Homo sapiens: one gene and its partner. Each later gene encodes a partner of the first gene's protein in a complex. Each region holds a gene or a part of one and is shown on either strand. Other genes may lie near its edges. A codon is read from its position in the direction of its gene.

Evidence for each region.
Region 2: the proteins of CCK (region 1) and CCKAR are in contact, whole or in part, in a cryo-EM structure (PDB 7MBX), measured with the Homo sapiens proteins. Residues at the interface, in NP_000720.1 of Homo sapiens: Asp96, Tyr97, Met98, Gly99, Trp100, Met101, Asp102, Phe103; in NP_000721.1 of Homo sapiens: Cys94, Phe97, Asn98, Pro101, Asn102, Lys105, Asp106, Phe107, Thr118, Met121, Gly122, Val125 (codon at 1,659), Tyr176 (codon at 1,812), Phe185 (codon at 1,839), Asn194 (codon at 1,866), Met195 (codon at 1,869), Cys196 (codon at 1,872), Arg197 (codon at 1,875), Phe198 (codon at 1,878), His210 (codon at 4,267), Leu213 (codon at 4,276), Leu217 (codon at 4,288), Ile329 (codon at 5,609), Phe330 (codon at 5,612), Ala332 (codon at 5,618), Asn333 (codon at 5,621), Arg336 (codon at 5,630), Ala343 (codon at 5,651), Glu344 (codon at 5,654), Leu347 (codon at 5,663).

The regions. Positions count from the first base shown.
Region 1 is NC_000003.12:42,263,049-42,270,972, forward strand, and holds the start of CCK (cholecystokinin preproprotein), read right to left. Parts: upstream 3,138-7,924; 5' UTR 2,636-3,137; intron 2,390-2,635; 5' UTR 2,221-2,389; intron 1,860-2,220; 5' UTR 1,649-1,859; intron 900-1,648; exon of another isoform or gene 775-899; intron 585-774; 5' UTR 583-584; coding exon 369-582; intron 1-368. UniProt on the Homo sapiens protein: This peptide hormone induces gall bladder contraction and the release of pancreatic enzymes in the gut. Its function in the brain is not clear.
Region 2 is NC_000004.12:26,480,395-26,487,548, reverse strand, and holds the end of CCKAR (cholecystokinin receptor type A), read left to right. Parts: intron 1-1,650; coding exon 1,651-1,912; intron 1,913-4,265; coding exon 4,266-4,393; intron 4,394-5,378; coding exon 5,379-5,911; 3' UTR 5,912-6,153; downstream 6,154-7,154. UniProt on the Homo sapiens protein: Receptor for cholecystokinin. Mediates pancreatic growth and enzyme secretion, smooth muscle contraction of the gall bladder and stomach. Has a 1000-fold higher affinity for CCK rather than for gastrin.

The sequences.
Region 1 (7,924 bases):
TCCAAGGGTTGGTATCTGGGTGGCTCCAAGGTCCTTTGCGTTTTCAGTAGAGGGTATTCACTGTATCTAGGAACCCTTTCCTAGGCTTCAATAATTATCTTTTAATGGCTTGGTAAAATGGTGTTGAACTTAATCAGCAACACTGCTAAAAATTAGTTCAAAGAAAGCTTTTCAAGAAGGTTCCCCTTACTTATAAATTAAGTCCTCCATACCCCTTCTCAGATTGCTACAAAGGACCGCCAGAAATCATGTTGCTTGTTTCCTACCGAGAGAGGTCATCCCCATCAGGCTAGCGCTAGAGAAGAGGGTCAGCATCGGGAGCCTGGGAACAAGGGCAGAAGTGAGGGATGGGGAGGCAGCATTCTTACCTTTCCGGGCCTGCTGGATGTATCTTGCCAGCAGGGCGCCCAGGTGCGCTCGGGACTCGCCATCCGTTCTCTGCGATACCCTCAGCTGCCTACGGGGCGCCTCCTCTGCCCGCTGCAGCCCGGAGCCCGCGGGATCTGCGGGAGGCACCGGCTGCGTCAGGGCGCCAGCCGCCAGTACCGCCATCAGCACGCACAGGCACACGCCGCTGTTCATGGCTGTAGCGAGCAAAGGAGGAGGGCGCGTTAACTGAAAGGCTGGGCAACAGAGCTCCTGCGGCGGGCCGGGCACCCAGAAGCGGGCTTAGGACAAACACAGGTGCTCCAGACCCGCCAGGCCGCCGCAAGCACGAGGGCTCGCCAAGCGCTGACCCCAGCCGAGTGCCATGGCGCGCGCCCCCGGGCGCACCTGGCTGGTCTTTGGGAACTCCTCACCCAGCGCCAAGGGGCAGAGACCCTGTTTTCTGCCGTGTTGAGCAGAAGGAATGTTTTTGCTTTCCTAAAGTTTGAGGAAGTGTTTGCAGAGTGCCTCTCTTCTAACCGAAAGAAGAAAAATAAAACCCCACGAGATTAAAAATAGTGTGAAAAAAATATCCTAAAGGGAAGACTCCGTGGGAGAAATGAGAACCCTGGGGAAAGCACTTTTCCAGATAGCTAACAAGCTTTCAATATGGAAATACAGTAAATGATGAAAAAGAGAAGCACAGTTTAAAATGTAGGAGCAATAAATAAAGCCGTATTTATAAAGTTTTTCTCAAAGTGTACGTGGGAAATGGCAATAAGCCACTACGCAGAACATAGGCAGGTTTTAAAATCAGAAATATGTGCCCAGCGCTCAGGCTTCGAAAGCCCCGTGCATTTTAGATCGCTAGTGGATAAAACACCCTCAAGTTTCTATCCGTAAAGCCTCGAAATTTTCTGCAGTATTTAGAAAATGAATTTAAATCTTAAAACCCTCTAATATTTTATTAGAAAAGATTGCAAAGTCCCCCGCACCGCTGTGTAACAGCTAGCAAACTCAATCTGCATGCGAATCTTAGCGAATGGGTAGTTCATCCCTTAATGATGCTGGCGTATGAAAGGCTCTAAAGCAGCTCTACCCACCCAGACCTCACTTTTAGACCCAGAGCCGTTATTTCTGACTTCAAGAAATGTCTTTCGAGCTCTCGGAGGGAAGACACAGAAAATAGAAAAGCATAATGGAAATGGGCACAAAGCTGAAGACAGCATCCTTCAAAGACACACGACACTTGGATCCCCCGCTGACGAACCGAGGGACCTACCTTTTGGATTAGGACGCAGCTGGCTTGGCGTTTCCAACCGGAGCAGCCCGGCAGCTGAGCCAAGTTCAGGGAGGACCAGCGGGCGGCTGTCTCTTAAATAGCCCCACCCGGCGGCGTCGGCCAGTCATGTATTTACCCAACGCTGACGCAGACTGGCAGTAACACGTGCTCAGAGGGCGGCCACTGGGGCGACAACCGGTTGAAGTGGCTCCTGGGAGAGAGGGGGAGGTGGTCTAGTGGGGTGGAGTTAATCCCTCCCACGCGCGGTGCCGGGTGTCCGCCCCCTCTGGGTCCGAGAAGCTTCCGCCCAACCCTTTCCAGGTGCCGCTCCCCTGCGCATTCCAGAGCAGTACTCTCCAAGGTGGGAAACCTAGGAGTTTGGAGTCTCCTCCGGGATGGAGAAGCTGCCGCTAGCTTAGTTCGCTTTGGGGACCGGAGGGGCTAGAAAGGAAACTGGGGGCGGGGGTGGGGGGTGGACACTGGGCAGGACTGAGCATCAGCAAGGCGTGATTCTGAAAGGGAGGGGGCGTCGGCCCCCTACCCCGGAGCGTCCGAGGCGCTGGTCTTCATACCTGTGTCGGCTCTTTCGAAGGAGAGAGGAGGAGTCGGGGTCTTCACTTTCTTCTCAGCCGCATTAAAAGCCCTCGCAGTTCTCCAGGTTTCCGAGGGCCAGTGTTCTGGGTCAGTGAAAGGGCTCTGGCCACAGCTGGCTCTTGGTGTCCTGGGCCTCTCTTGACGCAGCTGTAAAATGCGGATGACACCATCTGGTTTTGCTCAGAGGAATCCGGTTTGGGAAAGGGATGTGTTTTCTTCCCGGGCCAAGTTACCACCACCCGCGGCGCCCACTGTTCCCCGTTGTCGACAAGCGGCGCCAGCGAGGGTCCTGGGGAACTTGACCACCGCACCCCCGCAAGCTCGGGTAGACCACGGCATCCGCCCCTCGCACCTTTCCTGAGGGCCCACACACTCACACCCCCAGGACAGTACCTTCCAGAACTCAGCTGCGCAGCCTGGAGGTGAGGACCTCACCCCTAGTCAGTCACCCGTCCGGTGGAGGGAAGGGAGGCACCGAGGCTGCCGTGCGCCTTTCCCTGCACGCGGTTACTCTCCCGGCTCCGGAGCGGGCCGACCTGGAGCCCCTCAGTGCGCTCTGGTCGTCTACACCCTGAAACCCTTTGAGTTCGAGTCCGCTTGCTGGTGCTTGAGTTCGCCGCGTCCCTGCAAAGGCACTGCCAACCCCATTTCACAGACCGCAAACCGAGGCGCGAGGAAGAGCAGCGCCTTGCCAAGGCTCCACAACACGCCCCTCGCCCTCTCCGTGCACCGAGGCCGCCCAGCCTGGGACCTGGAGATCACCAGGCCTTGAACCTTGGGACCTCAACTCCTCTCCCTTTCTTTCCCCCACCCGTCTTAGATGCAAGGAGAAAGATTTAGAAGCGCTTATTTTAAAATCGGAATCCGTATTCCGCTCTGGAATTCCCTCTGGAATGGAGGGACTGTGGCAACGCCAGTGTGAGGGTGGAGTGGGCGAGGCGGGGTGGGGGGGTTGGGGGGGCGGCCCAGAGACGCCTCCGGTTGCTGCTCCACTTTCTAATCCTGAGAGGCAGCTGCGTTTCTGCAACCTATGGGCAACATGTTTGAAAGAGCTGAAGCTGATTAAATGCTTTCCAGTGGTTTCGCCACGAGCCTGCTAAGGTTTGTGTAGTTCAGTTGCGAAAAAGAGTCTTATTTGTGATTGTGGCAAGACATGTCTGGAAACATAAACTTGTTATCGAAATACCCCCAGAGCTTCTAATTCAGTAGGTCTGAGGAAGGGCCCAAGAATCCGAATTCCTTCCTTCCTTCCTTCCTTCCTTCCTTCCTTCCTTCCTTCCTTTCTTCCTCCTTCCCTCCTTCCCTCCCTCCCTCCCTTCCTTCCTCCCTCCCTCCCTCCCTTCCTCCCTCCTTCCCTCCCTCTCTCCCCTTCCCTCTTTCCCTCTCTCCCTTCCTTCCTTCCTTCCTTCCTTCCTTCCTTCCTTCCTTCCCTCCCTCCTTCCTTCCTTCCTTCCCCCCTCCCTCCCTCCGTCTCTCCTTCTCCCTCTTTCCCTCTTTCTCTCTCTCTTTCTTTCTTTCTTCTTTATTTCTTTCTTTCTTTCTTCATTTCCTTCCTTCCTTCCTTCCTTCCTTCCTTCCTTCCTTCCTTCCTTCCTTCCTTTCCTTGCCTTTCCTTCTTTGAGACAGAGTCTCACTCTGTCGCCCAGGCTGGAGTACAGTGGCATGATCTCGGCTCACTGCAACCTCTGCCTCCCAGGTTCAAACGATTCTCCTGCCTCAGCCTCCCCAGCGGCTGGGATTACAGGCATGTGCAGCCATGCCTGGCTAATTTTTATATTTTTAGTAGAGACAAGGGTTCACCATGTTGGCTAGGTTGGTCTCGAACTTCTGACCTCAGGTGATCTACCCACCTTGGCCTCCCAAAATGCTGGGACTACAGGCGTGAGCCACCACGCCCCACCAAGAATCTACATTTCTAACAAGTTCCCAGGCCATACTGAAAATGCTAGTCCGCCAAGCACACTTTGAGATCATTTCTATAGAAATTCCCTACCTTATACCAGTTACTCAACTCCTGGCCTTGATCCATTTAATTCATGTTTATTCAACACTTACTTTGTGCCAGGCCCCAGGGATTCAGTATGAACAAGAGCTGACAATACAATAGGGGAGCTGAAGCAAACAAGTGGACAAACACTTCTCAACAATTCTGATATTTGGGGACTATGGAGTGGAGATGGTAGGAGGTAATCTTGGAGAAATGTTTTGGTGAGGGGAGCTAGGTGGTAATATGGAAGATGCCCAAAAGGCAGAGGGACTGGAAGGGGAGGGCTGGATAGGAGGCCCTCGGGGATGGGCAAGCAGGAACAATCAAGGTAGATTTGTTTTAGAATAATAAGCCATTATGAAACCCATTAATTATTAGGAAACATAATAAACATTATGCAAGTCATAAGTGTTCATCAGAGAACATTCAGAAAACAAAAGTAGAGAAAAGAAGAAAAATTCCAGCCTCCCAGGGAACAACCTGTTGCTGCTCAGGAAACTGGTAGAGGGAACCGGACTTGGTGACTGAGACTGACCTTGAGTTTCCAGGCTGGGAGACAAGGGTGGGTGGTAGAGTATTATCCAAGACAGGGAATTCAGAAGGAAAAGCAGGCTTGGAGTGTGGCCGTGGTGGTAGTGGGCCAGTGGGGAGCGGGTAATGAGTCCAGTATGGGATTGGTTGATCGTTTGTGCATTGACAGTCTAGGAGGAGTTTGGGAGCCTTTGTCCTGAGCAGAGAGACACTGGAGGGGTGGACCCAGAGTCTGGCATGTGGGTGGTGGCTGCCAGCCTGGGAGTTATAGGGAGAGTTGAGGAAGGCAGCTAGCAATGGGTGGCAGGGTGCCTCTAGACAGACCGCTGAGGAGTGACAGCGTGAAGGAGTGGGTGGAGGAAAAAGAGCTGGTACAGAACCAGACAAGTGGGCCAAGGAGGCCAGCGTGGAAATGCCAGTGCAGAGCCAGAGGTGACAGGGACCATCAGAAGCTGAAGAAGGGCTTGTGCATGGGCCTTTCTCATTTACGATCAAGAGAGCTGCTTGCCTCTTTATTGTAAAATAAAGCAGTTGTAGCCGCTTGTCTCTCAGGAGTGGAAATTCTGAGCAGGAAATGTGTGATAGAAGAGCTGCTAGGAAAATAGAAAGACATAAGGGATCTGAACTCCTTGGCCATAGTCATGATTTTTCCTTCTTACAGGGTCAACAGGTACTAATTATTCTGACTATGGTTCCTAAGCAAGTTAGGCCTGGAGCCGACACTATTCCTGTAATCCAGATGCATATCCGCATTAAAGATAATCCATTTGTTCACTTAAAAAAATGGGCTTGATGTCTCCTGAGGCAGATGCCTTTGGTGCTCCTCACCACAGTTCCACGTTCTCCCTCTGGCTTCAGCTGCAGCCTAGCCAGGCTGGGCAGTTTTCAGCAGACAGCATTCCCACTTCAAGCTTTCAAAGCACCCCTCTTGGCTTATCTCCTTCAAAGTTCAGCCCTTGCAGAGGTTCAGCCTGTAAGTTTGGGTGTTATCTCCCCGAAAGACAATCTTCAGCCAGTGGGGAATGGGAACCCCAGTCTCTCTGTATGAACCCTTCTGGAAGCTTCTAAAGACTTCTCAACGGTCCTTTGCCTGTATCGGTGAACTTGATAACAGCTCTCTCTCTCTTTTTTTTTTCTCTCTCTCTCTCCCTCTCTCTCTTTAGACAGGGTCTTACTCCGTCACCCAGGCTGGAGTGCAGTGGTGCAAACCCGGCTTCCTGGCTTAAACAATCTTCCCACTTCAGCCTCCTGAGTAGCTGGGAACACAGGTGCACACCACCATACTCTGCTAATACTTTAATTTTTTGTAGAGACAGGGTCTCACCATGTTGCCTAGGCTTGTCTCAAATTCCTAGGCTCAAGTAATCCTCCCTTCTCAGTCTCCCAAAGTGTTGGGATTACAAGTGTGAGCCACCAAGCCCAGCTGATAACATCTCTTTAGTTGTTTTTTCCTCCTTCTTTGTCTTACTCTTCTCATTTCTTCCTCCTCTCCCAAATAAACGACATGTACTCAAGTCTGTCTAATTTTAGTATAACCCTATCAAAGACACCAACTGTCTTTCGGGCACTGTTGGGATTCAGTGGTGAGCAAGACAGACAAAATCCCTGTGCTTGTGATGCTTCCATTCTAGTGGAGGAGACAGACAATTTAAAAAATACACAGCAGGCATGGAAGGTGCACACATGTTTTCAAGAAAAGTAGAGTAGGGGGAGGGTCTGTGGAGGACTGGGCACCCGCATGAACGTATGCAAACCACTGCTGGGGGATGCCCTGTTAGGCTGTCTGCTGTGTAGACCTTGCTATGTATGTACATTATGGAGAAATGGTTTTGCTTTTCAGTCCAAATAGAGAAAAAGGAAGTTGTATGGGAGTTCGCACTGTTTGGAGATTGTTTTGTATTTCATCAAATGTGAGACGGTAACTAACTTTTCTGCCAAGCTCATTCTCTTGTCTCAGAAAAGGAATGGAAAAGGCAGTGCCCTCTGTGTCCTTCCCACCACCACCCACTCTTCCCCATCATGGAATGAGACGCACCAGCTGGTCCCTGCCTTTATCTGGAGGACTGAGAGTGGAGGGTGCCATATCCAGATGCCGCGTTGGAAAGGAAATAGTGGAGAGAGGAAACCTGTGACTGTTCACTGGTTTGGAGTCTAGAAATTCCCATCTGATTGCGGTGAAATGAATTTAAGTAAGATCTTGCTCAGAGTTGGGGAGGTATCCCCGAAGATTAGTTCCTGAAACAGATATATTTTCAATACACGATTTTTTTAGTCATGAGACCTAGCTCAAAGACATATGTCAATTTTGTATGTGTAGAAAACTTAGTGGAATTTCCAGGGACATGCTAGAGCCTCCTGATTTATTATTCATAGAATTTAAGCTTGTTACAAGCAAGCCCCACTTACCAGAAGGCAGGAGGCTATTTGCTGTGATCAGAAACGTGATGGTTAGAAGGCTTCTTTTTTGGGTCTTTTTTTTTCCTGAACATGTATTAAAATATTATTATTTGTCCTGGAATTTTTCAAAGTCCACATAGCCAATATCATCTGCCAATATCTGGAATGATTAGACTGAAAAAAGGGAAGTAACTATGGTCATGGTGAAGTGTTTCCTTTTCCTAACGATGAATTTCTTTAGAATATCTTGTCATAGTTTGGGTTCCTACAAAAGCAGAGCCTGGGACAGCACCTGGTTACAGGTAATTTATTTGAGAGTGATTCCAAGGGAGCAGGAGTAAGGGAGAAGGGAAGAGAGAAGACAGTGAAGTATTGAGTACAGTGGATGACTGCTGTGGACCCAATCCCCTGGGGACTCTCTGAGATACCTCTTGGAACATGGCTCATAGCCAGCCTACTTGAGGCCAGAAGGAGAGCCGGAGCACCAACTCCCATTTCCCATTAGTTGAGGGCTGTTCCAGCAGGTGTTAGCTCCCTCTCACTTCCAAATAGGCTTACCTGCTCCTGCAGAGCCAGAGAAAGCCCTCAGGCAGAGAAGAGATAAGCAGATGGCTGAGGTGGGAATAGCTACATGAGAGGGAACATGAAGGGGAAATCAATAGTGGCTGTGTTACTGTCAACTCAGGGTGCTATAACAAGTACCATGGACTGGTGGCTTAAACAATGGACATTTATTTTTCACAGTTCTGAAGACTGGGACATTTGAG
Region 2 (7,154 bases), on another chromosome or scaffold:
CTAATAATTAACATTCATTAGCTCCTAATTTGTAGCAAAAAGAAAAAGAATGCTTGCCTGCCAGTGAGTTTATAGTTATTGATGATCCATTATGCAGAACTGAGTCTTAGAGATTTTTGGGCCGTACTCTTCACTCTAAATGTCATCAACTCTTTAGAGTAAAATCCAGTAAAACACAGCAAATCCTATCCCCAGAACATGAGTTTTTAGTTAATGGTTTGGGGGTCATAGACTTTTTTAAGACTCTAAGGAAAGCTAGAGCTAGGCTCCCTAGAAAAATGACATTTTTGGATATAGTTTCAGAGAATTAGTTTATATCCATAAGAATAAGGAGAATCTAAGGACCCCAGTTTCAGGACCTCTGCTCCCAAATTTATATTAATTCTGAGGTTTAAGAAATCTTGGTAAGAGATATTCAGAAGAATTGACAGAATTTATAGCAGAAGGACTCTACAGGGAATTTTAAGGGAATAATAGGACATTTTAATAAGTATGCATATACAAATACAAAAATAATGGAAGTTAAGCTTTTTGGGCAATGCCGAAGCACATGATTTTGTTCATTTTTTATTTTAATTTTTTTTCCATAGGCCATCTAAGACCAAGAAGTACATGATTTATTTTATTTTATTTTTGAGATGGAGTGCCGCTCTGTCGCCCAGGCTGGGGTGCAGTGGTGCGATCTTGGCTCACTACAACCTTGGCCTCCCAGATTCCAGCGATTCTTCTGCCTCAGCCTTCCAAGTACCTGGGATTACAGGCACGTGCAGCCATGCCTGGTTAATTTTTGTATTTGTAGTAGAGATGGGGTTTCACCATGTTGGCCAGGCTGGTCTCAAGCTCCTGACCTCAAGTGATCTGCCTGCCTCGGACTCCCAAAGCGTTGGTATTACAGGCATCAGCCACTGCACCCAGCCAAGAAATACATGATTTTAAATGAGGTGCATTTAATATCTTCCTCACTGTAATGGTGATGCTTGCTCATTCTACAAAATACAGAAAAACAAAAACAATAAGACAAGAGACTTTAGTCCCCAACCCAGAGAAACCTTTAGTTACTGTATGGGGCATTTTCCCTCGTCTTTTTTACTACTTATTTTTTCAACAAGCTGCATTTTGAAATATAGATTGTTTCACTATTAAGAACAGTATGTACTCAAAATTTTTAGAAAAAACCTTCATGCCTCCGGCTCACATCACAGTGACCTTTCAGGGTCACAGAGCCCTTGAGAATCTCGGGTTTTAAAAATCATTTTAACTATGCAGACGATACTCAAAATTACAGCTTTTCTTCAGATTTTAGAGAAACCTCTTCTGTGGGGGCAAGAATGAATTTCATCCCCTTGGTTATTAATTAATGAGCACCTTGAGCCTAAGCAGGTGTTAGGTGATAATCAAAGCTCAATAAACTTATTAAAAATTGGCAATGAGATATATTTACAAAGCCATTTCTTTAACTGCCTTAAACCCTTTCTGGAACAAAGCTGAGAATAAATCATCTTTTAAAAATATACATACACAATATTTCTTTACCTTCCAAGCGTTTTCCTTTGATATCAAACCTGTGCAGATCAGATATATTCAAGCTAATGTGCAAATAAACTTTGGATTTCAGAGTCAACATAACCGGCTTCTTTGTTCCTTTCCCAGGCACCTCTGTGAGTGTATCTACCTTTAATCTGGTAGCCATATCTCTAGAGAGATATGGTGCGATTTGCAAACCCTTACAGTCCCGGGTCTGGCAGACAAAATCCCATGCTTTGAAGGTGATTGCTGCTACCTGGTGCCTTTCCTTTACCATCATGACTCCGTACCCCATTTATAGCAACTTGGTGCCTTTTACCAAAAATAACAACCAGACCGCGAATATGTGCCGCTTTCTACTGCCAAATGATGTTATGCAGCAGTCCTGGTAAGGTTGCATTGTTTATTTTTAAAAATACAGCTTGATGTAATTTTGCAATATCATGAAAAACTGAGATGCCTTGCCCAGAGTGGTTGGGGGATCAGTTTCCTGGAGACGTTTTGAGAAGGTCTTTCTAGCCTCGTTCTAGGATAATCACGATAGCAAACACTTAGCTGGCGAGCTCTGTTTTAAATGCCATGCATATATTCATTCAATCAATCCTCTGAAAACACTCTAAGATAGGTATTATTATTATTGTGTCCGTTTTGCTGTTGAGGAAACTGAGACTTGGAAAGGTTAAGTTTCCCAATTCACAAACTTAAGGAAGAGGCAGAGGCTCTGTGCTTAATCATTATGCAGTATGCTTCTAAATGCTGTAGTGGAGGGTTAGGCTGATTAATTGTAGAGCTATGATTTTCTTTCTTTTTCTTTCTTTTTTTTTTTTTTTGAGACGGAATTTTGCTCTTGTTGCCCAGGCTGGAGTGCAATGGTGTGACCTCGGCTCACCACAACCTCGACCTCCCGGGTTCAAGCAATTCTCCTGCCTCAGCCTCCTGAGTAGCTGGGATTACAGGCATGCACCACCATGCCCGGCTAATTTTTTTGCATTTTTATTAGAGGTGGGGTTTCTCCATGTTGGTCAGGCTGGTTTCGAACTCCTGACCTCAGGTTATCCACCCGCCTCGACCTCCCAAAGTACTGGGATTACAGGCATGAGCCACCGCGCCCGGCCTTCTTTTATTTAATAAAATCTTTACTTTAAAATAGAGATTGGGTCTCACTATATTGCCTAGGCTGGTCTTGAATTCTTAGGCTCAAGTGATCCTCCCGCCTTGGCCTCCCAAAGTGCTGGAATTACAGGCATGAGCCACTGCAGCTGGCAATGATTTTCTAAAGAATTAAGACAGAGCAGGGAATGAGTCCCAAATCCCACATGGTTTTTCTTAGAGCTGCAGCAGCTCCGGTACTTACCCAGAGCATTTTACCAGAAATAAAAACGCAAGTTTCTAATACTGGTTCCTTTGCTTACTAACTGCACACCTTAGGCAAATTCACATAAGCTCTCTGAACGTCAGGTTCCTTATCTCTATAAGGAGTTAACAATGTGGATATTTTAAAAATCTACCTCATTGGGTGGCTGTAAGATACCAAGGAGAGTATGTTCATAAAAATGTCATTATAAAAAAGGCTACACAAATTGCAGGGTATTATATTTACCAATTGCAGGGATGTTTTAGAAGCAGGGAACTAGACATTGAGTAACAGCCCCAAACTGAGATCATCTCTGCTTTTTTTGCTTTCCTCCTTTCATTTCAACCAAGTAGCACACACACAAAGGAATTACGTTGCAAATGAGAGGAATATTTCCAAGGCTTGAAAAGGAATCTTATCAAAACATGTCAAATTGAAGTGAGAAATGGCCCAGCCACCATGAGCCTCTGACAATTTTATGGCCTAATCGTGTAACCTCACACATGCCAGACTGCAGAAGTGATTTAGGGGCCAGACTCATAAAGAAGGAGGCTGTGATTCTTCAGTAATCAAAGATGTTTAGAAAAAGCATAGCTCTACCCAACCAGGCACTAGAATGATGATGCCACTATGCTAGCCTCACAGGGTCATGGAGAATGGACGCCCACGTAAATGTTTGAGCTGCTTATGGGTTGGAAACAGCCAGAATGGCATGTTTTGTAAGACCCAGAAGGTTTTCCATTGTCCCCACCTAAGCATTTGATTACTCTGTTGTTTGGCAAATGGTATACCGTGATGCTTAAAAGCATAGCTTCTAGGTTCTGGAATCATATTTTGGGGGTTCAAATTCCACCTCTGCTACCAGCTGTGTGACTTTGGACAAATTATTTAATCTCTTTAAGTCTCAGTTTCCTCCTCTCTGCTGTAGGTATTAAGACAATAGCACCTACCTCAATGGTTATTATGAGAGTTAAATGTAGTGATGTATGTAAAATGCTTAGCCTATATGTAGCACATAGAAATCCTCGATGTATGTAAGTAATTTTTAAGGGTTTTTAAAACAGCTTTATTGAAATGCTATTCACATACTCTTATTTTTTAAAGCTTACATTCTTTTTCATACATAGACTTCTTTCAAGCACAGAATTACGCCAAACTTTTCCAATTAAACTAGTCCTTCATCAGAGACTTCATCTAAAAAAAGAAAAGAAGTAAACAACTTATAATGACTGAATCTCCAGACATGAAGTTGCCAAGGATATTAAATACTAGTAATTAATGTGTTTGCTCAGGCCAGTAAAAATAAACATAAACCCTATTCATTCCTTCCCATTTGAGTTTGAAGGTCTAAAGTTGCTGGTTATTGGATTTCTTTTGATTTCATTAGGCACACATTCCTGTTACTCATCCTCTTTCTTATTCCTGGAATTGTGATGATGGTGGCATATGGATTAATCTCTTTGGAACTCTACCAGGGAATAAAATTTGAGGCTAGCCAGAAGAAGTCTGCTAAAGGTAACTATCTTGTAGCTGTGTGTTTATGCCAAATGAGCACAAAAGCTTGTTTTCTATCATTTAAATAGATATACCCAGAGTGTACGTAAAGTTTGTTGGAAAAGCTTTTAAGTATTCTTATGAGATTCTGTGTCAAGAAGCACAGTCACGGGCCCAGTATTTCATTTTCTTATCTGTAAAATGGGGAAATCATTCCTTTCAAAAGCATTCTGAGTGGAATAAAGTAACCCACATATAACCCAATAACAAGCCAAGGCCTTTTCTGTGCCAGCTGTTCTGTAGTGCTGTATTCAAACAGACCCCTTTCCATAACCAGAGCTACTTGTAATTCCAGCCTGTTTTGTGTCTCTCCAAAGGTACTGGAGGGGATTTGATTCCTAACCCACAGCCGGCTTTTTGTTGTCTCCTCCTCATCCTCTCTCCTTTTTATTTTCACCCTGCAGTGGCCACAAAGCCTCATTCCTTCTCCATTCATTACAATCCACTGTCCATGAAAATTGACCTTGACACCCTTGTTGACATAGCTTTTCCCTTCTCACTCCATGCCCTAACTCAGCTGTCTACTACACAGATAACTGAGTCTCTCTAGCTTCTTTGGTTTTCATGGGATTTTTTCTTCTTATCCAGATTCCTCATCATAAAAGCAATCTGGAATCTTACCCAGCAAGCAGGAACCTTCCCTCTGGGGAGCTAATGAAGGAAAGGAGAAGAGTGTGAATATTCATTCTTTAATAATTTTTTTCTTGTAACCTACATCCATAAGATGTTGTTTTTATTATATATTTTATTCATTTTAAGCAGCATTTCATTGAAGGGAAGAACTAGTATAGATCAATGCTTACCCATATCAGTGTAAGGCCAGGTTGTCTGCCATTTCTCAGTTCCTGTTTGGTTTGGACTTCTTGATGGAGGGGAGTGGGGGCTCCATGCCTTCTACCGGGCATGACCCATCCCCAGCAATGAGTGATGTCTCTTGCCCACCCAGAAAGGAAACCTAGCACCACCAGCAGCGGCAAATATGAGGACAGCGATGGGTGTTACCTGCAAAAGACCAGGCCCCCGAGGAAGCTGGAGCTCCGGCAGCTGTCCACCGGCAGCAGCAGCAGGGCCAACCGCATCCGGAGTAACAGCTCCGCAGCCAACCTGATGGCCAAGAAAAGGGTGATCCGCATGCTCATCGTCATCGTGGTCCTCTTCTTCCTGTGCTGGATGCCCATCTTCAGCGCCAACGCCTGGCGGGCCTACGACACCGCCTCCGCAGAGCGCCGCCTCTCAGGAACCCCCATTTCCTTCATCCTCCTCCTGTCCTACACCTCCTCCTGCGTCAACCCCATCATCTACTGCTTCATGAACAAACGCTTCCGCCTCGGCTTCATGGCCACCTTCCCCTGCTGCCCCAATCCTGGTCCCCCAGGGGCGAGGGGAGAGGTGGGGGAGGAGGAGGAAGGCGGGACCACAGGAGCCTCTCTGTCCAGGTTCTCGTACAGCCATATGAGTGCCTCGGTGCCACCCCAGTGAGATGTCCCCTGACCCTCCACCGCAGAAGGAAGGCAGGGAGGAGGCAGAGAAGAAAGAACGGAAGAAGAGATCAGGAAGAGAAGGAGCAGAGCTGATGGAGAAGGAAGGCTCCATCTCCAGTGGGAACTCTTCAAGGTCTGCTTTTCATCCTTCATCTGGATTCCAGAGCACTGCTCCAGTGGGGCCATGATTGGTTTCTAGGCAGTTCAAAGCAGGATATGTTAAGTAACACTCACCATCAGAAAATCCTCAGCAGGCCAGGGACGGGAGTCCAGCAGGGCTCATACTGCAAATGGAGTTGCCAGCACATGTTCAAAACGGAGATGTGGGGCCTACTGAGCTTTCAAACCTTCTAGAACATCCAAGGTGGGCTCTCACTCCTCCTGTGACACATTTCCATGCTCTGCTTTTTCTGCTCATGCAGAATTGTGGCGGTTGCTCTGCCTGCAGGGAGCCCATCACCCTATCATGTATCCGCTGTAGCCTTCCACCTCATTGTGACCACAAAGGGAACAGGAAGCAAACCCTCTCTGGCCATTTTGTCCTGGGTACGACAGCAGCCTGATTTCTTCATCTTCAGGTTGGCCAAGAACATTCGGAGTCATAAGCTAGTTGTCATCAGAATAGCATAAGCAATGTCTGAAAGATGGAAGTTTGAACTTAATACTTACTTCTTTTCTTTTCTTTTTTTTTTTTTTTTTTTTTTTTTTTTTGAGACTGGGTCTGGCTCTGTCACCCAGGCTGAAATGCAGTGGTGCCATCTCAGCTTATTGCAAACTCTGCCTCCTGGGCTCAGGTGATCCTCCCACCTCAGCCTCCATAGTAGCTGGGATTACAGGCATGTGCTACCATCTGGCTAGCTGTTTGTTTGTTTGTAGTTTGTTTTGTAAAGATGGGGTTTCACTATGTTGCCCAGGCTGGTCTCAAACTCCTGGGCTCAAGTGATCCTCCCACCTTGGCCTCCCAAAGTGCTGGGATTATAGGCAAGACCCACCACACCCAGCCTTGAATTTAGCATTTCTAAAGAGAAAAGAGTACAAGGCAAATAGCTGGATGGAATGCTATCTTACTTTAAGGAATGTTAAGTGGCAGAAGGTGCATGGGAATATTTTTTCTATTTTAATGATATATATTACTTAATTTCTCCTTTATATGGTGATATTAAACCTCATGACTTCTTTGCCTCAACTCAATTTCTCATATTCATCTATATTTCTGTCTTCCCAGAAAAGATCTCCGGGAA